2 separate regions of the Homo sapiens genome follow, and region 1 is reported to be linked to region 2. The links are microRNA targets in miRTarBase. Many come from high-throughput screens and were not tested one by one. Region 2 holds a microRNA gene; the other region holds the end of a gene's coding sequence.

What was found. The annotated mature microRNA hsa-miR-4769-3p reads UCUGCCAUCCUCCCUCCCCUAC and lies in region 2 at 3,120-3,141, opposite strand. An mRNA with a match to its seed (bases 2 to 7 or 8) in the 3' UTR can be bound and repressed. Matches are read on the target gene's strand: a 7mer-m8 pairs with bases 2 to 8, a 7mer-A1 pairs with bases 2 to 7 and ends in A, and an 8mer does both.
Region 1: the mRNA of ZNF865 is a reported target of hsa-miR-4769-3p. Seed matches in the 3' UTR shown: 7mer-A1 at 1,060-1,066.

Annotation. Positions count from the first base shown.
Region 1 is chr19:55,616,158-55,621,225 of GRCh38, forward strand. It overlaps ZNF865 (zinc finger protein 865), which reads left to right. Exons shown (of 2, transcript NM_001195605.2): 2 at 1-1,112. The coding sequence ends at 641. It overlaps ZNF784 (zinc finger protein 784), which reads right to left. Exons shown (of 2, transcript NM_203374.2): 2 at 4,584-5,068. Among named protein-coding and RNA genes, the nearest start is that of ZNF784, 5.9 kb to the right of the region's middle.
Region 2 is chrX:47,585,555-47,590,616 of GRCh38, reverse strand. It overlaps MIR4769 (microRNA 4769), which reads right to left and starts at 3,188; the gene lies at 3,112-3,188. All of the region lies in intron 5 of SYN1 (synapsin I), which reads left to right. It overlaps TIMP1 (TIMP metallopeptidase inhibitor 1), which reads right to left. Exons shown (of 6, transcript NM_003254.3): 5 at 4,950-5,062; 6 at 3,828-4,096. The coding sequence ends at 3,926. RefSeq lists a silencer at 3,033-3,327.

The sequences.
Region 1 (5,068 bases), not on the chromosome of region 2:
GTTTCCGCTGCCCGGTGTGCGGGAAGCGCTTCTGGGAGGCGGCCCTGCTGATGCGCCACCAGCGCTGCCACACGGAACAGCGGCCGTACCGATGTGGCGTGTGCGGCCGAGGCTTCCTGCGCTCCTGGTACCTGCGGCAGCACCGCGTGGTGCACACTGGCGAGCGGGCCTTCAAGTGCGGCGTGTGCGCCAAGCGCTTCGCGCAGTCGTCCAGCCTGGCAGAGCACCGGCGGCTGCACGCTGTGGCCCGGCCCCAGCGCTGCAGCGCCTGTGGCAAGACCTTCCGCTACCGCTCCAACCTGCTGGAGCACCAGCGGCTGCACCTGGGCGAGCGCGCCTACCGCTGTGAGCACTGCGGCAAGGGCTTCTTCTACCTGAGCTCCGTGCTGCGCCACCAGCGCGCCCATGAGCCGCCGCGGCCCGAGCTCCGCTGCCCCGCCTGCCTCAAGGCCTTCAAGGATCCCGGCTACTTCCGTAAGCACCTGGCTGCCCACCAGGGCGGCCGGCCCTTCCGCTGCTCCTCCTGCGGCGAGGGCTTCGCCAACACCTACGGCCTCAAGAAACACCGCCTGGCGCACAAGGCCGAGAACCTCGGGGGGCCTGGAGCAGGGGCGGGCACCTTGGCCGGGAAGGATGCCTGACCGAGGGGTTCCCATCCCACTCCCATCAAAAGCCCCCTTCTGGACTCCCACCTCCCAGGACTGATCAGACTCTTCCCCCCTCCTCGCTGTTGCCCCATCCTTCAGAACTTCACACGGACTGGCGACCTTCAGGGCGCACGCCCGACAGGCTCAAGACTGAATCACTCCCATCCTCGACCTCTCTGCCCTCCCCTCATCCCATCAGACACTGAACCCTATCCTCCGTCCAACCCTCGTTTGTGACCCGCATCAGCCCCCGCCCCAGCAGCACTCTGCCCCCAGTAAGTTTTGGCGGAGATGGGTCTGAACCGCCCCTCCCCCTCCTTTGGAATCTGGCTGGACAGTGGAGTATGAGCAGAGTTGGGAGGGCACAAGGGAGTGCTGGGTGCTTTTTGGGGTGGGGGGGTGGGGGGCGGGGTGGCAGACGCGGCTTGTACAGAGCGGAGAATAATAAATCTTACCATGAGGGCCGCTGGAGTCCATCCTTGCATCCCACCCAGGGAGAGTGGGGATCACATGGTGGCAAAGCACAAAGTTAAAACTTGTTTCCTCTGCAGTTTTGATGCCGGGCGCCTCTGTCTCTCACTCACTCTCATTCAACAGGGACTTACTGAGGATTTGCTGTATTCCCAGCGTTAGTCTGAGCTGGGCAAATGGAGATGGACAAGACAGGTAAGTGTCTGCTCTCAGGAACTGACTTAACATGCCCCGACTCTTCCCCTTCCGGATGCTTTCAGCCTTTGTTCACTCCACCACCACTTCCGGAGACCTCCTGCCTGCCAGGCCCTGAGCTGGGCACTGGGGAAACAGATGAATTGGACGTGCCCCTTGGCCTCAAGTAACACAAAAGAGAACTCCCATCCGGCTGCCGTGGCTGCCTCACAACCATGTGCAGACTGATGGTCATGATACAGCTCCCTCTTAGCACTTGTCCTCCAGGGTAATGATTGGGAGATTCAAAAGCCCGTTCACAGCTCTCATGTTGGCTCTGGGAACAGCAAGATGTATGCCTGGCAATGTGTGTTTAGTTATCTCATTTGTTAGAAGAAGGGCCTGGGGTCCTGAAGAACAAAGGTGCTCCAGGGACATCTCAAAAATCCACAGAATTTGGACTCCAGGCCAGGCATGGTGGTTCACGCCTGTAATCCCAGCACTTTGGGAGGCCGAGGCGGGCAGATCACTTGAGGTCAGGCGTTTGAGACCAGCCTGGCCAAAGTGGTGAAACCCCATCTCTACTAAGAATACAAAACTTAGCTGGACATGGTGGTGGGCATCTGTAATCCCAGCTACTCAGGAGGCTGAGGCAGGAGAATCACTTGAACTCAGGAGGCAGAGATTGCAGTGAGCTGAGATCGCACCACTGCATCCAGCCTGGGTGACAGAGTGAGACTCCATCTCAACAAATAAATAATTTGGACTTCAGTCCCAGAGTACTTCAGTACAGAAACTTGAAGATGAGGCCAGGTGCAGTGGCTCATGCCTGTAATCCCAGTACTTTGGGAGCCCAAGGCGAGCAGATCACCTGAGGTCAGGAGTTCGAGACCAGTCTGGCCAACATGGTGAACCATCCTTTCTACTAAAAGTACAAAAATTAGCTGGGCGTGATGGCAGGTGCCTGTAATCCCAGCTACTCGGGAGGCTGAGGCAGGAGAATCACTTGAACCCAGGAGGTGGAGGTTGCAGTGAGCTGAGATTGCGCCACTGCACTCCGGCCTAGGCGACAAGAGCGAGATTCCATCTCAAAAAAAAAAAAAAAAAAAAAAAAGGAAAAAAAGAAACTTGAAGATGAAACTAGGTAAGAGCGCTGCTTGGGTGAGTCCTGTGTGACCCATGGGAGAGCAGCTACCCTGTGTGGCTCCATGTTCTAATGCTGAAGACCCAGCATGAGACAGACGTTGTGCCAGTGCCCCCAGGGTTCAGGGTTCAGCAGTAACATGGAAATGGAGCCTCACAGTGTAAGGGACTTGGAAGTATCACTAGGGCTTGAGGGAGCACAGAGGAGTCACCTGTCAGAGTGGAAGGGGGGCTAGAAAAGCTTCTTGGGGAGAAGGTGATCCCTGAACGATGACATAAACCAACTGGAGTTTTCCAGGTAAAGAAGTGGCAAAGAGGCCGGGCACGGTGGCTCATGCCTGTAATCCTAGCACTTTGGGAGGCCGAGGCAGGTGGATCACGAGGTCAGGAGCTCCAGACCATCCTGGCTAACACGGTGAAACCCTGTCTCTACTAAAAATACAAAAAATCAGCCGGGTGTGGTGGTGGGAGCAGGTGGCAGGCGCCTGTAGTCCCAGCTACACGGGAGGCTGAGGCAGGAGAATGGCATGAACCCAGAAGGCGGAGCTTGCAGTGAGCCGAGATCATGCCACTGCACTCCATCCTGGGCGACAGAGCAAGGCTCTGTCTCAAAAAAATAAATAAATAAGAAAAAAAAAAAAAAAAAGAAGTGGCAAAGATTTCCAGGCGGAGAGTTTAGTGTGTTGAACTAAACCCTGCTATTCTGGAGCATTTAAGACAGATTAGTATGGCTGGAGGTTGGGTTCCTGGGGGCTAAACCCTGAAGGGTCTTGAATTCCAAACTGTGGGGCTTGGGTGATTTTATAGGCTAGAGGCTGGAAACTGGCAGCTGCAAGGCCGAATATGACCACTAACACATTTTTGTTTAGTCTGTGCATTTTTTAAAAAGTTTGACTTGACTGCCAACATTGGGAAATCAAAAGATTTTACATAATGTGAACTAATGGAACTTCTGAAAGAAACTGGAAGATGTGGCAACCCAATCTGTGTTCCGGAGCTGAGCAGCCATTACCCTCTTCTGAAGAGGCACTCTCCAATTTGTTGAATACCAATTCTGAGACCTGGTGGCAATCGCCATTATTTCATGTTGCTGATATTTTCCCCTTGAACCTGGCCGTCTTGCTCGTGTATTTACATTTTCACCCAGCTCCTGTAGGCATTCACATTTCCAAATCGTCTCAAAGCCACAAGGAGCTGTGTCTTGGTGACAAGGATCTGCATGGATGCCATATGGAGAATGAAGAGGGCAGGTGGCCGGGTGCAGTGGCTCACGCCTGTAATCCCAACACTTTGGGAGGCCGAGGCGAGTAGATCACCTGAGGTAAGGAATTTGAGACCAGCCTGGCCAACATGATGAAACCCCATCTCTACTAAAAATACAAAAATGAACTGAGCGTGATGGCGCCCACCTGTAATCCTAGCTACTCAGGAGGCTGAGGCAGAAGTGCTTGAATCCAGGAGGCAGAGGTTGCAGTGAGCAGAGATTGTGCCATTGGACTCCAGCCTGGGCAACAAGAGCAAAACTCCATCTCAAAAAAAAAAAAAAAAAAAAAAAAAAAAAAAAAAAAAAAAAAAAATGCAGGCACTGGACTGCTGTGCAGTTGTCTGTGTGTGAGACCACTGTTGGTCTACAAGTGTAGTGATGCCGAAAACACGTTCCAGTTCCAAAGATATTAACTGGCTCAACTGAGGGAAACTGATAAGGGACTGGACATAAGAATGAGGATGAAGAAGGTTTAAACCTGCCCAGGTATCCAGCTTGGGTGGTGGTGCCAATGACATCAGAAGCATGGAGGTTTCTTTGAGGAAAATGGAATGAGTTCTGTTCACATTGTGAGTTGCCTGTGAGTTATCTCATGGGGCCCACTGGGTGAACAGAAAGGTGTGCAAATCAGAGGCTCTCACTCAACAAGCATGCAAAGCATGTTGAGTGTGCTTTTGCCAAACTTCCCTGACCCCCCTCTCCTACAGCTGAACCACATAACACGTAACCACAGTGGGGCCTACTCACCCCCCATTCTGATGATGGGGAAACAGAAGCTTGGAGGAAGAGATGATGCAACTGACTGCTGGTGGCAAAACCATGGTGAGGCCCCTCCTCCCCCAACTCCCCAAAGCGGACAATCCGAATACAAGACCGACAGAGAAGCCCTTCAGAAGGTCCTTTAATAGGAACAGAACTGAAGGTGTCACACCTCCAGCTCCCAAGTCCTCCTCTCGCCCCCACCACAGTGACTCTTTCACTCCACACCCAGGCCAGCCCACCATGCTGCCATCAGCCAGCCCGCCCTTGGGATTGGCGGGGACTAGGCAGTAAGCTGTTTGCTTCGAACTGGGAGTGGAGGAAATTAGAGAAACCTGAGGCTACCTTGAGGCTTGTGGGGGACCCTGGGCTCTGAGTCTAAAGCTTTAGGAGGGGGATGCTAGGTAGCTGCTTGCTTTATGTGTTCTCAGTTGCCTCCGAAGAAGAGTGGATGGGTTAAGGACGGACCACAATGGGGGTGGGGGTTGCCGCTGTTGGAGTCAAGATCCTATGGTCAGGCTTACATCCTTGAGGCTCAAGTGCTCTCAGCGGTGACTTGGGGACCCTCTGGCTTTGAGGTGATGGGATCCCAGAGTCTCTTCACAGATAA
Region 2 (5,062 bases):
GAGTGCAGACTTCTATCCCTCAAAGGACCTGGAGGGACAGAGGCCATGTCCCAAGGACCAGTGTAGCATGACCATATGTCCCTTGGCTAGGACATGCTATGATCCCCAAGTCTCAAAGACTCAGAACACTACGGACTGGGGACAGAATTTGCTGTGACGGGCTGAAGTTGGGAACATAGTATTGTGAGGCGGGGGTTCTTCGTGGGGAGAATGCTCCAGGGATGGGGACTTTTTGTTCCAGGGTGGTGCAGAGGGAGACCTGAGGGTGAGGAGTCCACACAGGGTGGGGACAGGTTGGCTGGCCTGCCGTTAGGAATCCCTAAAGGGGAACCTCTCCTCATGGTGTCGCCACAGTTGTTGTGGGTGGGCGTGTAGAAGGATCTAACCACATTGCTCTTTATTTTCAGGTGCTTCTGTGAGCCACAGGTTCAGGACTCCACTAGGAAACTGGATTGTCTGTGAGGGGGAAAAGAGAGAGGGACACTGGGACTGAGGAACATTTATGGCGTAAAGAGCTGGGATCTTAGTATCACATCAGGAGCTTTTGGGTCTCGGAGACCTACCCCATTCCTTCAGGCAGAGCAGGGTCAGGAGCTTGTATTTTGGTGAGGAGACTGGTGTGGGGGAGAAATGGACATTAAATTATTGGTACTAATCATACACATTATTTCCAATATCGTATATTATCATGCCTAATATCAAACATTGTTTGCAATATTATAAATAATCACTACTAAAGTTATAAGTTATAGTTATCATAACTACTTCTAGTAACTAATGCTTGTAAGTGCTATATGCCTAGCACTGTTCCAAGTACTTCACATATACAACCTCATTTAATATGGACATTGTCTCTATGAGTTAGGCCTTCTTTTTATCCCTGTCTTACAGATGCAGGAACTGAGGCTCAAAGAGGCAATATGATTTATTCAAGGACACAGAGCTAAGACATGGCAGGGGCAAGATTTGAATGCAGATGATCTGGCTCCAGGGTTCCTGCTTTTTTTTTTTTTTTTTTTTTGAGACGGAGTCTGGCTCTGTTGCCCAGGCTGGAGTGCAGTGGCTTGATCTCAGCTCACTGCAAGCTCCGCCTCCCAGGTTCATGCCATTCTCCTGCCTCTCGAGTAGCTGGGACTACAGGCGCCCACCACCATACTCGGCTAATTTTTTTTTTTTTTGGTATTTTTAGTAGAGACAGGGTTTCACCTTGTTAGCCAGGATGGTCTCGATCTCCTGACCTCGTGATCTGCCCACCTTGGCCTCCCAAATTGCTGGGATTACAGGCGTAAGCCACCATGCCCGGCCTTTTTTTTTTTTTTTTTGAGACAGTCTTGCTCTATCCCCCAGCCTGGGGTGCAGTGGCATGATCTCAGCTCCCTGCAACTTCCGCCTCCTGGGTTCAAACGATTCTTGTGCCTCAGCCTCCCAAGTAACTGGGACCACAGGGCATGCGCCACCACAGCTGGCTAAATTTTGTATATTTAGTAGAGATGGAAACCATGTTGGCCAGGCTCGTCTTGAACTCCTGACCTCGTGATCTGCCCACCTTGGCCTCCCAAAGTGCTAGTATTACAGGCGTCAGCCACCATGACTGTCCCATTTCCTGTGTTTTGACCCCCCCAAAAATATCCAAGGGGCAAAGACACCCCGTAAACATCCTCCAACCCCACCACAGACCTCTGAAGGATTCTGGGCCAGGACTGTGACGTCCATGTTTAAACATGGCGAGAAGGACTGAGGCTCAGGTGAGAGAAGGACTGGCCCCCCAGGCTCCCCACTGAGCTGGGTCCCATGCTGAATACCACATGGCTGTGACCCCTACAAGCTTCCTCTCAGCTGTCACAGAGTCTCTCCCAGAGATTCACCCACAGACACCCCGAATGCTGGGGATGGAGGATGCTCACTTGACCTATTTTAACAGATGTTCTACAAGAGCAATGGGGGATGTAATGAGCCCAGGGTTACAGATCCTGCCAGGAGCTCATGCCAGGTCTCTGGTGGAGGTAGCCTCGTCTGCTGTTCTGGGCTCTGTGTCCCCTGAGACCTGTTCTGGTCTCCGGTCCTCCCTGTCCATTCTGCATTGCACTTGGCGAAGGGCTGACCTGCAGGGTAGACAGGTCGGCAGGAGAACGACCTCCACGCTGGGTTCCATCCTTCCCCTGCTACTTCACCTTCCCCCTAGGGCTTGGAAGAGCTGAGGACTTAGGAAATGGGCCCTGAGGCCAGGGAGCAGCTTAAGAGTGCAGGTAGCTGACACTAAGGTTTGGCGAATTGCCAGGAGCGGTCAGCCTCTTGCAGGCAGCTGAGGGAACATTGACAAGGTCACCAGGGATGAACCAGGGCTCGGGCCCTTACCTTACAGTTGTGCCCATCAGCAAAGGCTGCGGTTGGCCCCTTCGGTGGACAAGGTTCAGACCCTCCGAGGGCGTAACCAAGGTGTAGATGTTGATGTAGAAATTGTTGCTGCATGCGCATTCCCTGCTTAAGTGGCTGAGTACTGTGTGTTCAAAATCTGCCCATTCCCATCCGGGACATAATTTGGGCCGTGGGGTAACCTCCCAGGAGTGTAAAAGGCTCTGGGACAGGACCACAGAAGATCCAGGGGGCTGTGCTTGGTGACCTAGAATGCCCTGGAGGAGACCTGGGTTCTTACTGGTAAGAGCAGTGGGTACTCTGATGAGAGGGAATTTGGGGGTCCTTTTCTTTACCAAAGGAGATATATTGGGGCCCTTTTCAAGCACGTTCAGGTCAGGAGGACACAGGTGCTCCATTGAATGTTTGCACCAGTCTGAAATTCTAGTTCCCAAGGGCCTCACTTGAGTCAAGACCTTTGGAGTATGAGGGGCAGGAGCCAGGGACTGGACCCCGCTGTGGAAGCAGGAAGGCCTCAGAGGGGAGTATTTGGAGGTTCTCTCACTCAGTTTTTCTAGAGAAAGGATGATTCATAAAGGTGAGGGTCGAGTCTAGAGACCCTAGTTTGGGTGAGGGGACAGTTGGGTTGAGGGAGGTGTGTGGAGGGTATGGGCCAGCATATCTGGCTGGTCTTAATTTTGAACCCTACCTGCATTTCATTGCTGTCAGTATTTCCTTCCAAGTTGGTCAGAGGAGTGAGGGGAGAAGTAGGGGAGGGAGGATGGCAGAGCTTGGGGATTTTTAGCTCATACCTTCTCTCCATCCCACCTCTCCTCTGCCCCAAACAGTCCCTTCCAAGGAATGTCCTGCAGCCATGGCTGGGGAGCCAGGGCCACCCCTTCTTCCCAAGTCCCCAGCTGGGTTACTGTGGGACTCTGGGTGCCCTGGGTCCCCTTTCACTCAAGTCAGACTCATGGTACAAAACCTGAGGATGAGGACAGTAACACCCACGTGTTTGGATGGGGCATCCTCACTGGACAACATCAGGACTGTGCTTGAGGCAATGATAGTCATTTGCCAATTGGTAGGGCATTTGTCAATGACTCTGTCAGCTGGCAAGATGTGTGAATGGGGAATTTCCAGTAAGGCAGTGATTTGTCAGCTGTGGGATAATTTATAACTAGAAAGCCCTGGGCAAATAGCAATTAGGAATCAGTATAGGAAAATGTTTTAAAGTATTGGCTGGAGAAATTATTCAGAGGTTACGGTTGATAATGCAGGTTCAGTGACCATTGCTGCTGTTGCAGATCATCAGTGCTAATGCCAATGTTGAGAATTACTACCAGTACATCAGAATTTAAGTAAAATATAAAAACCCAACATTTGGCATCCCTCATCCCCACTGGTCCCAGGGTGCTCACACCAGGTCATCAGCAACATGGGTTTGTTCCCAGGCACTACACAGAAACAGTGTCTGCTGGGTGGTAACTCTTTATTTCATTGTCCGGAAGAAAGATGGGAGTGGGAACAGGGTGGACACTGTGCAGGCTTCAGCTTCCACTCCGGGCAGGATTCAGGCTATCTGGGACCGCAGGGACTGCCAGGTGCACAGCCCTGGCTCCCGAGGCAGGCAGGCAAGGTGACGGGACTGGAAGCCCTTTTCAGAGCCTTGGAGGAGCTGGTCCGTCCACAAGCAATGAGTGCCACTCTGCAGTTTGCAGGGGATGGATAAACAGGGAAACACCTGGAAGGGAGGAGGGAAACATCTCTGAGGGCTTCTCCCTGCCTCCCCCGTGGAGCAGAACTTCCTCTCCTCAGCTTTCAACACTGAGCCGCTGGGGAGACTTGCTCTCACCCCACCTAAGTACATACCCCAGGACAGCCCCTCCCATTGAGGGAAATGTCACTGGGTCCTGAAAGGTAACAGTAAGCCAGTAAATCAGTGTCCTGGAATGGTGGCTGGGGAATAGGCCCTGGGGGTCAGTCAGGCAGGTCGCCTGTGGAATTGTCCCAAAGGACAGGGAAAAACTGGCAGTAGTAAGGGGCCCCACCCGGTTGGCGGCTAAGGAGTTTAAGCACAGGAATAGCCAGTGGGGCTTCAAGATAGTCACTGGGCTCAGAGGCCATCAGGAGCCATCAGGGAACAGGCTTGGACTAGCCAGGAGGTCAGTGTAACACCCTCTGGTGTCTGGAATAGTCAGAGCTGCAGAGCAACAAGCAGATGTGCTGAGGAAGGGTCAGTGGGATTAGGGAACAGCACTTTGGGTTCTTGGAGAACATTCTGGGGAACCAAGAAACAATCCCGGGGGCTCAGGAACGGGGAGTGGGATTACAGAATAGTCACAAGGGAGAATTAGAGGGACCAGGGAGGGACAGGTGATCACACGGTATTGGACACAGGGAAAGGGAGCAGCCAGAATTTGTAAGGGAGCAGTCTCGGGCTTGGGGAAATAGCAAGAGAGATCAGGGACAGCCCTTAGGGTTGGGGAGCAGCCACAGGGACACAGAATAGCCAGAGGGAGCAAGAAACAAGCCCACGATTTAGGGAATGGCCCCGGGAAGGATCTCCCGTTGGAGGTCAGGGTCCAGGCACTCACTGTGCATTCCTCACAGCCAACAGTGTAGGTCTTGGTGAAGCCCCGGCGCTGAGCTAAGCTCAGGCTGTTCCAGGGAGCCACAAAACTGCAGGTAGTGATGTGCAAGAGTCCAT